Linked DNA regions of Homo sapiens: region 2 is linked to region 1. The links come from fine-mapping of genetic effects on gene expression. A gene starts in region 1. The other region holds a variant in brackets. All regions are shown on one strand. Distances are between the middles of the regions.

What was found. PIP is the estimated chance that this variant, and not a neighbour inherited with it, causes the effect.
Region 2: its variant is the best candidate, but not a certain one, in a credible set for the expression of FICD in whole blood (INTERVAL, PIP 0.56).

What each region holds. Positions count from the first base shown.
Region 1 is chr12:108,512,564-108,517,886 of GRCh38, reverse strand. It overlaps FICD (FIC domain protein adenylyltransferase), which reads right to left and starts at 2,610. Exons shown (of 3, transcript NM_007076.3): 1 at 2,526-2,610; 2 at 614-972. The coding sequence starts at 914. RefSeq lists enhancers at 175-675, 888-987, 676-1,176, 3,079-3,138 and a silencer at 4,635-4,820.
Region 2 is chr12:108,533,395-108,538,774 of GRCh38, reverse strand. SART3 (spliceosome associated factor 3, U4/U6 recycling protein) reads left to right here. Exons shown (of 19, transcript NM_014706.4): 8 at 572-710; 9 at 1,180-1,287; 10 at 1,990-2,067; 11 at 2,203-2,261; 12 at 3,307-3,416. Among named protein-coding and RNA genes, the nearest start is that of FICD, 21 kb to the right of the region's middle. The variant C/T (reference allele first, on the strand shown) is at 2,801.

The DNA.
Region 1 (5,323 bases):
TTGATTGTGCGCCCCAGGGGACATTTGGTGACGTCTGGAGACCTGGTTAGTTGTCATAACTGAGGAGGTGGAGGGAGTGCTACAGGCATCTCATGGGGAGAGGCCAGGGATGCCACCACCATCTAACAATGCACTTTCAGTCCCCACCACAGAGAACTGGTGGAGGTGGGGAGCCTGCTCTAGCCCTAGCCCTCCTGTCCTGGCCCCTCTTGGCCACCTGAGGATCAGCCCCACACATTCAACTTCCTTTAGTTCCTCGAATGCCCCCAGGCTCTCTTACGACAGTTATGTCAGTTATGACAACTAACCTCTGGTCTCTGCCTGGAGTCCTTTTCCTTGGATGCCCTTCACCCTGGATGACTCCTACTTAACAACTGGGTCCCAGCTCAGGTGTCACTTCCTCCAGGGAGCCTTCCTGGTATGCTCCTACAGCCCTTTATGCTTCCCCATCACCACACTTGTGACACTGTCTCAGTCACATCACCTTGTCTATACTAGGAGCTCAGGGCTGACTTGTTCACAATACCCCGATGCCCCACATACAGGACATGACACATTCTATGTCTGTCTATCCAGTTAACAAGCATTGAGGAAGACGGCCAGTCTGTCTTACCTGGAGAGGCCTTGGTCTTGGCCACCAGCAGCGTCGCGCCCCTGGAGGTGATGCTGAGCTCCGTGGACGGGCTGGTGCACTTGGTGGCGGCATGCTGCGCCCTGTCCGGTTTGCTCCTGAGCAGGTAGAGGCCTTTGAGCACAGCCAAGCACTGCTCCTCCACAGCCCCCAGCGGCAGCAGCAGGGCCAGCAGGGACCCCAGCACCATGCTCAGCAGCGTCACCCAGAGGAAGCGGCTCCAGACCGAGACCCATTTCGGTTCAGTCACCGCCATCACTGAAGCCATTGGTATGAGCATCATCTGGACTCAGGAGAGGGCCCTTTGCGCATGTCCACAGGCGGCTGAGAGAGAGCAGGATCTGCAAGGAGCCAAGAGTCGCAGGAGAAACAGACACGTTCAGGACATAGTGTGACTTCAGCTGGGAAGATGGGTTTGGAGACTTCTGCTCTTTTAGCTCACTAGAGAGATGGGGTGGGGGCAAGTCAAGGACTGGATCTCACTAGAGGAGGGGCCAGCCTAGAAGGACTGGTGCCACCTCCTGGGCAGTATGAATGTGAAAACACTGCTGTGGTCCAACAATTAATGAGCACTTGCCATAATCCAGGCCGTGTGCTAAGCACCAAATGCCTCACATGGGTCACCTCCTGCAATCTTCAACGACTTGAGCTGATGTTTTCACCCTTCTCCAGGTGAGGGAACTGAGGTTCAGAGAGGTGAAGTCCCTTGCCGAAAGTCTCGCCGGGAGCAAGTGACAGCCTTAGGACTTGAACTCAGGAACCCCACGGCTCTAAAGTGTCCCCCCTTCCCATATATCCCTGTGGCTTCTGACCACAAACACTGGATTTGTGGACATATGTCAAACATTTGGGACATAAATGACTGACAGACACCCAGGCAGATCAGCCACAGCAGTTCTGACGCCCAATCTTTGATAAGCACAATTGTTGGGTGGCCTCATTTATTGCCCTCACCCTGATATTCAGCCACAGCTCCCACAGTGCCCTTCCCCTCTCTGGCCTTCCATTTCTGGCCTGTCCAGAAGGGACCCCATCAAGAAGATGAGCAGTTCGAGCATCTCGAAAGGAACTCAGGCTGTGGGCCACAGTGCTTGGCCTCAGTGACAACATGGCTTGTATGTGCTTGGGGCTGGCAGTGGGAGTGGAGGTGGGGCCAGGCATGCAAACACTATGCTAACAATAAGCACTTATTAAGCAACTATGGTGTCCTAGGTGCTGAGCAGTGTACTGGCCACGCATTGCCTCGTTTCACCCTCATGCCACCCTATGAAGGAAGAGCTACCGCTAGCTCCATTTTACAGACAAGGGAAACCAAGACACAGAGAGCATAAGTTAAATTCCAGAAGGCCCACAGGAGGTAAACAGAGGCATCCGGAAGGAAACCCCAGGGCCTCTGAACCCGGTCCCCAGGTCTCGATTTCTACCTTATTACTAAGCAGGGCCTGTGCACCTGCTCTGGGCTGGTCCTGACCCGGGAATGACTGATGGATCACGGGGTTCTGAGTCTCATGGGGATCCTGGCCCATTGCCACAGAACATGTGAAATGGCTTGGGGTGCGCTTTAATAGGGGTGCGCCTGGAGTGCTGCGCGGGTCCAGGGGTCTGGGCGGGCTTCCCGAGGGGACAGGCTCCTGGGCGGGGCGGTACAGGAAAGGGGGCAGTTCGCCGGTGCCAGGGGTGTGTGCAGGGAAGGAGTGCGTTCTGGGAGGCGCGAATCTCTCCCCCACACTTCCCTAGAAAGGGAGAACTGAGGCCCGGAGAGGGGAGGGGACCGGTCTGAGTCCCCTCCAAGACTGCAGAGCCTCCCTTCCCGAACCCCGCCCAGGGCTCGCGGCCCCGTCGCACCCTTCCCGGCTTCATCCTCTCGAGCCCCTAGGGCTTTTCCCCTTCTCACCGCGCGCAGCTGTCAGAACCCCAACCGCCTTCCCCGCGCTCCCAGCTCCGGGCCGCCGGCTCCCGGGTCCTCCTTCTCCGCCGGCCTCTGGCCCCGCCCCCGGCGACTTGCCATTGAACCGCCCGCAGCCCTCGTCGCGGCGGATTGGCTTTCCCCACTTGTCCTTCCCTCGCATTTCCGGGTTCCCGCGTCCGCGTCGGCTTCCCCGGGAAAGACGCGCCGTGGGCCACTCCCATTGGTTGTTGCTTGCGTTTGTCTCGTTCACGTAGCAGCCAATAAGCAGCGGGAGGGGCGGGGCCTAGGCCACAGGCAGGAGGAGCAGGTGCTGGAAACCCGATGGGCGTGCGGATTTGGGGCACACTAGGTGGCGGGCCCGGAAACTGGAAGTTCCACGGCGGTCTTTTCCTCGGGTCTCTTCGTCCCGGAGCCGCTGTCGTGTGCCTCATTTTTCCCGGTTGTGAAATGAAGATGCTGATGCTTTTCACCCCTTCACCCGGTTAGCCTGCTTGACTGCGCAGCCCCTGTTCTTAGCCTCCACCCCATGCTGCTGAGTTTGCCGCCTTCTTCTTCTTTACTCTTTTCCTCTCTGTGTCTTTTCCTCCCTGACTTAAACAACTTTTTTTTTTCTTATAAAATACAGGGTCTCGTTGTGTCGCCCAGGCTGGAGTGCGGTGGAGCAATTGCAGCTCACTGCAGCCTCCACCTCCTGGGCTCAAGCAATCCTCCCATCTCAGCCTCCCGAGTAGCTGGGACTACAGGTGCATGCCACCATGCCCGGCGAATTTTCTTTTCTTTTCTTTTCTTTCTTTCTTTCTTTTTTTTTCTCTCTCTCTGTCTTGCTTTCTTTCTTTTTTTTTGAGACGGAATCGCACTCTGTTGCCCAGGCTGGAGGGAAGTGGCACGATCTTGGCCCACTGCAACCTCCGCCTCCCAGGTTGAAGCGATTCTCCTGCCTCAGCCTCCCGAGTAGCTGGGATTACAGGCGCGCATCACCACGCCCGCCTAATTTGTGTATTTTTAGTAGAGATGGGGTTTCACCACGTTGGCCAGGCTGGTCTCGAACTCCTGACCTCAGAAGATTCGCCTGCCTCGGCCTCCCAAAGTGCTGGGATTACAGGCGTGAGCCATCGCGCCCGACCTATTTCTGATTTTTTATTTTCTTTAGAGACCGGGTCTCACTATGTCGCCCGGGCTGGTCTCGAACTCTTGACCTTAAGCTCTCCCTCCATCTCGGCTTCCCAAAGCGCTAAGATTACAGGCGCAAGCCACCCCCTCGGTTCTCCCTGACTTTTTAATTTGTATCCTCTCCAGAAGGACCTGGCTAGTTCTTTTGGCTTCCCAGAGAGAAATTTTTTCCTTGAAGCAGAGAATGGAAACCTCCATCTTAATCCACAAATACTGAAATTAAACATCTAGGGAGGTGCCCCAGAAACGCTAAGCATTTAGAAGTTAGCAGTTCAGATTCTGGGGAGTCAAAGAGACCTGAGCTCAAATTCAGACTTTGCCATTTACTCTCCGTGTCACCTTGGGCACGTTACTCCTAGCCTCACTTTCCCCACTTGTAAAATGGGGACAAACAGCCTACCTTGCTTTTGGCATCCAGTTCAGGATTTGCAGAAGGCTTGATGCTTCAAGATCTGACCTCCTCTGTGACGTGTATTGCTCTTGGAGGCAGGGCTAGGTGGTGGTTGTGGGGTGTCACTGTTGGGAGTCACACAGACCTGGGTTCAAATCCCAGTTCTGCCCCTTGCAAACTGAATCACATTCAGCAAGTGACTTGATCTTGTTGATCATCTGTCTAGGCTTTTCTGTAAACTGTGCACAGTGTGATGATATTACCACTTCACAAGGTTTTATGTGAGGGTGAAATGAGATTCTATACATCTGGCACAGAGCAAACTATCTATCTATCTATCTATCTATCTATCTATCTATCTATCTATCACCTATCTATCTTTTTTGAAATAGGATCTCACTCTGTTGCCCAGGCTGGAGTGCAGTGGCATGATCTTGGCTCACTGCAACCTCCATGTCCTGGGTTTAAGTGATCCTCCCATCTCAGCTTCCCTAGTAGCTGGGACTACAGGCACACACAGGCTAATTGTTTTTTTGTTTGTTTGTTTGTTTTTGAGACAGAGTCTTGCTCTGTCACCCAGGCTGGAGTGCAGTGGTGTGATCTTGGCTCACTGCAATCTCTACCTTCTGGGTTCAAGCGATTCTCCTGCGTCAGCCTCCTGAGTAGCTGGGATTACAGGCATGTGCCACTGCACCCGGCTAATTTTTTTGTATTTTTAATAGACACGGGGTTTCATTCTGTTGGCCAGGCTGGTCTTCAACTCCTGACCTCAAGTGGTCCACCTGCCTTGGCCTCCCAAAGTGCTGGGATTACAGGCTTGAGCCACCGCGCCTGGCCAGAAGATCCATAGTTTTTAAGGAACAAAATCAGGGTGGTGATTATTTTGGTGGCTTCTCGTTTTTAATCTTTTCAACCAAGGTCATAAACATTTTTCTCTTGGAGTCCTCTGAATTGCACTTCCTGATGGCCCAAGTAGTAATGTCATTGTAAAAACCTTCCCCAGAGGAGGGCCTGGTAGGCAGCCAGCTTATGGGTGACAGTATGTTAGAAAACAGTGAAGCTCTGGGGTCAGACAGATGTGCGTTGAAATGCAAGGCCCACCGCTTGCTGGCTGGGTGACCTTGAACAAGTCACTTATCCTCACTGAGCTGGGTATTAAGGGACTAGTGGACCCCTGTCCACACCCAGGTATAAAGCAATGTAGTCCTCTGCTTCTAAAGGC
Region 2 (5,380 bases), 21 kb before region 1:
CAAGTTATTTAAAAATGGTCACTAACTGTAAGTAAAATGAGCATATTGTCTGTGTTGAGGACTTATAACAACTTGATATTTTTCTTTTAACTTTTTATTATGGCAAAAATGTAAACATATAAAAGTAGACAGATCAGTAAAATGAAACTTCTGTACCCCTCACCCAGCTTCAACAATTAGTAACATTTATAGCTTTAGTTTACTTTGATCTGTAGTCTCACCTACTTGTCCCTTCTGTGTTACTTTGAAGCAAATCCAGAAATGATATTTCGTTGGTAAATATTTCAGTATGTGTATATAAAATATTTCAGTGTGTCTGTATAAAAGGATCCAAATGAGGTCTATCCAGTAGGGTTGGCTGACGTCTTTTAAGGCTGTTTTAACCTGTAAGTTGCTCCTCTCCTTCTCCTCCACTCCCCTTAGTGATTTTTTTGTTGTTGTTGAGGAAACCAGGTCACAAGAGATGTTTATAAGGACATTTCTTTCATCACTTGGTCGTGCTGGCAATGTCTTGTTGATGGTGAATGCTTAATAAAGTGTAATTTCCTAACTCTGGAATTCTTTATCATAGGATCGACAACTGAAAGTAAAGGATTTGGTTTTATCTGTACATAACCGCGCTATTAGAAACTGCCCCTGGACAGTTGCCTTATGGAGTCGGTACCTCTTGGCCATGGAGAGACATGGAGTTGATCATCAAGTAATTTCTGGTGCGGATGTTTTTGTGGGAGAACTTCTAAGCTATTTGTCCCAAGTGAAAAACAGAGAGCGGTGACAAAGTCATTACATCAGTGTTCCCTGGGGTTTTCTTTGGGTTATGGAGTGTAGTGACAAAAAGGGCTCTGAGTGAGAGATGAACTGGTTATATTTGTGGCTTCTTAGAGCTTTTTAACATGCTAATATTCATTGTATTTTCTAAGAAGTTGTAGTGTTTTCTCCAAACTTCCTTGATCTGGAACTTTTCTTGCAGGGCGTCTTGTGGAAGAAGTTTTTTCTAGAACACAGTCTGTAGAGTGCTGTAGCAACTTCTGTCTTCAACATTCCTGTCTAGCTCATTTCATTCTGTTGCATCTATTAGTCTTTAAAGTCATGTAGTGTTTTATAGTCAGTAGAATGTAGTGACTTTCTATTAGTTTCCATTTGAATTGGTAACAAATCCTGACTTTTCTCCAACTCCAGTAACCTTCGAGAAAGCTTTGAATGCCGGCTTCATCCAGGCCACTGATTATGTGGAGATTTGGCAGGCATACCTTGATTACCTGAGGAGAAGGGTTGATTTCAAACAAGGTATTTAAGCACATGTTTTTCACTTTAGAGCTGAACATGTTCTTAATACAACTTTTGGCGAGATGTCCCAGTTCCCCAGATACATTGTGATTGGGCAAATGATGTAGACTAGGTATTGGTGACTTTTTCCCCCAGAAATCTTAGCAATTTCTGTCTTTAACAAGTCATGATGTGGATTGTAAAGCAAGAGAGTAATCGTTTATACTGGCTCCTGCCAGCCTTTTTAGTCTTAGCTCTCATTTCTCCTTTCAGGTCTTTTTATTTATCCTAAATACTTCTTGAAATAAGTCTGCTGTGTTTTAGAAAAATCTTTGTACCTCTGTGGGATCCTTTGCCCCTTCATGTCCCCCCGAAAACAACCAGAAAACCCCTAACTTGTACTTGCACACTCATGTCAGCTGTCACCTCATACAGGTAGCCTTTAGCCATTCTCTTGTTTGCCTGTGTCACCCCAGCTGGGGGAGACTCCCCCCCACAGCACCCTGTGTTTGCCTTTTTCACCACGCTGTCCATGCTCTATTCTGTTCAAATTTCTTTCTCCCCAACTATGTGATGAGGGCAGGAATTGGCAATTTTATTTCTGTGTCCCTTGCATGATGCCAGGTACATAGTGGGTCTCCAGGCAGTTTCAGCATAGGATAAAAAATAAAACAAAGCCAGGCTATGTGGTTTCCTAAAGCCTTTTTTTGCACTTTCCGTTAGACTCCAGTAAAGAGCTGGAGGAGTTGAGGGCCGCCTTTACTCGTGCCTTGGAGTATCTGAAGCAGGAGGTGGAAGAGCGTAAGTATGCCCCAGCCTGTGGTTTTGCCCAGTTGTATTTCCTTGTCTGTACTATTTCCTGGTTGATGTACCTTTTCAGCCAGCGACTATCTGTCTCCAAGTTCCTTTCTAATTTTACTAATTCTGTTTTTGAAGGTTTCAATGAGAGTGGTGATCCAAGCTGCGTGATTATGCAGAACTGGGCTAGGATTGAGGTAAATGTTTTTGACACATCTAGCACTTTCATCCATCATTGTTTAATAGCATCCTATTAAACTTTAATTAAAATTGAGTCAGAATCCCAGATAATGGCCTAAGCTCTATAAGGATTTATGTTATTACCTAGGTAATGGTCTAGGCTCCACAAGGATTCATGTTATTTACCTAGCTTGACATATATTTGTAAATATGTTGGTGAAAATATTAGCTCCCAGCTAGAAGTTGTGCAGTAAATGTTTAGATGCTAGGTATTCACTCGTTTACTTCTGTCTCTGCCTCTTTGCTTCATTTGTGAGAGCACAGTGAGCGTGTACTGTTTGTCAGCACTGTACTAGGTGCTGTGGGAATAAGACAGATAAAATTCCTTTGCTAGTAAGGCTTCTATCTAATGTAGAAGACAGATGATTTGACAAGTAATTAGAGGATATGATGACTTGAATGTCATTACTGGGTCAGGGACACCAAGGTCAGTAAGACACGGAACCTCCCTTGATCAGCAGGTAGGATTGTAACAATTCTAATCATGTTTTCTCCT[C/T]GGAGGGAGCGTCAGATAGAAGAAACTAACATTTGTCAGGTAGTTTTTATATGGGATGCTTATCTTTTAACCATTTTAAAGATGAGAAAACTGAGAATTACAGGTTAAGTAATTTGCCCAAGTCACAGTTTGTAAGTATTAGTAGCAGAGTGTGCATTTAATACTAGATCAGTCTTTTTTTTTTTTTTAACATTGTCTCTCAAACACTTGTAGTTAAGCTTGATAAAAATAAAAAACGTGACTATCTAGTACTGTCGAGTAAGTACCGTGCGCTCCCTCTCTCGGTTCTCAGGAAACATAGGTAGATTAGCTTGTGGCTGCAGAAAGGCTCAAGTGTTTGGGCTGGGTCGTTTACCACTGGAGGGAGGCCTGGGGAATGCCCAGGGACATCTGTAACACTAATAGTTGTGGGGTGCTTTTTATGTGTGTCTGTTGGAAGTGTGTTGTATGATGGGTGTCGACGTCATAAGGTTCAGGTCTCCTAACAGCCTGCTGATGCACTTTAGGCTCGACTGTGCAATAACATGCAGAAAGCTCGGGAACTCTGGGATAGCATCATGACCAGAGGAAATGCCAAGTACGCCAACATGTGGCTAGAGTATTACAACCTGGAAAGGTAACTGATCTCGGGGTGGGGAGGGAGGCAGTGCTTGTCAGCTGTGCACCTGTCTTCACTCCTGGCTGACTCCTACCAGCTTGGACTAGCTCCTTAGAACTGGGCTGTTTTCTTTCATTCTGTCTCTTTCAGTAGTGGGTACATTTTTAATGGGCAGGGCTAGAGAACCAGACATGATATTTTGTGCCTGGAACTCTTATAGCCATGCATTTCTTTTAATTTGTTTTTGTCTTGATTTTTGGGCATGATATTTTATTTGACCTTTTGGAGCTATTTGTTTTTTATATTTGCTTTTATAGAAAAGTAGAAAATACTAAAAAGCTAAGAGAAAAAAAACTCAAATTACTGACCCAGTCATAACCATGACCCATTCTTTGAGACTTTTCTATGTTTAAATTTTTTTGTAATGAAAATGCAATTATAGCATGCATGTGTTACAAGCCTTTAAAACTATTTGAACGAAATAAGATAGGCCTAACAATATTTATAACATGGGGAAAACATAAAGAATGTGACCAACTTTTCAGTCTGTCTTGAACGTTGTTCATTGCATAACATTGCTACATTGCTGGGTTTTCTTTTTTGAAGATTTTTTCCCTATTTAAAAAACACTGTGTGCCCAAATTAGAATATTTACAAAAATATGTGATAGAAAGCGACAGTTTCTTTTCTTTTTTCGGGGGAGGTGGGGAGTCTCACTCTGTTGCCCAGGCTGAAGTGCAGTGGTGCAGTCTCAGCTGCAACCTTGCCTCCTGGGTTCGAGCAATTCTTCTGCCTCAGCCTCTTGAGTAGCTGGGATTACAGGCGTGCACCACCACACCTGGCTAATTTTTGGATTTTTTTTTTTTTTTAGAAGAGGCACAGTTTCACCATGTAGGTCATGCTGACCTCAAGTGATCCTCCTACCTCGGCCTCCCAAAGTGTAGGAATTACAGGCATGAGCCACCATATCCGGCTAAACGTGACAGTTTCTTACAATCCCACCCCAGAGATAACCACTGTTAAAGCTTGTTGAATATCCCCCTAGATCTGCAGTTCACAATTTTTTTGGTCTCAGGATCCATTTTCCACTCTTAAAATTGGAGGATCCCAAAAAACTTTTATGTATGTGAGTTATATCTATTGATATTTATAATTTATAAATTGAGAAATCTAAAAAACATTTTAATTTATTTAAATATAACAAATTATCTAACATTAATATCTTTTTTGAGCAGTGACTGTTTTCCAGACCCCAAAATAATATAGTGAGAAAAGTGGCAGTGTTTTCTATTTTTGCAAATATATTTATTTGCACATTATTCTGACCTAGGAGAAGACAGCTAAATTCTCATGTCTGTTACTGATTCTGTCTGTTGTGATCTGTTGTTTTCATTGAAGAGGTTAGGAAAGAAAGGTATTTTAGAAGCATTTTCAGATAATTGTGGGTATTCTTCTTTCATACATATTATAGCAAAACTTCAGTGTTGCATGTGGAATCTGAAACCATATTGACAGAGTCTGTTACAGTAATACCCATTTGTCTATTTTATCTTTTACTTGATGCCACAATTCTACGACATTATTTGGAAAAATCCCAATTCACTAAATCATGCAGCTCTTCCAATGTTGACATATTTCATCCTATAGTATTAAAAAATCGTATTTGTTCATATCTGTATTGATCTTAGTTGAAAAGTATTTTAAGTAGGAAGCTGTCAGACTTGTGGTGGCAGATACAAGTTTTCCAAAATTCTAATTTTCACTTGAAAGCTTGAATTCTATCACATGCAACAAATAATGTCAGTGGTTTTCCCCAGAGTGGCAGCCTCACTTTGTTAATTTTCAAAAATGTCTGCCAAATACCCAGGTCTGAGTAACTGACCGTGGTTTGTCACTCAAGTTTCCTTTCAAGTAAAAATGGTGTCCTTGAAAAAAATGACTTGATTAGCTTGCAACTCAAACAGTAATATGCTTTTTTTTTT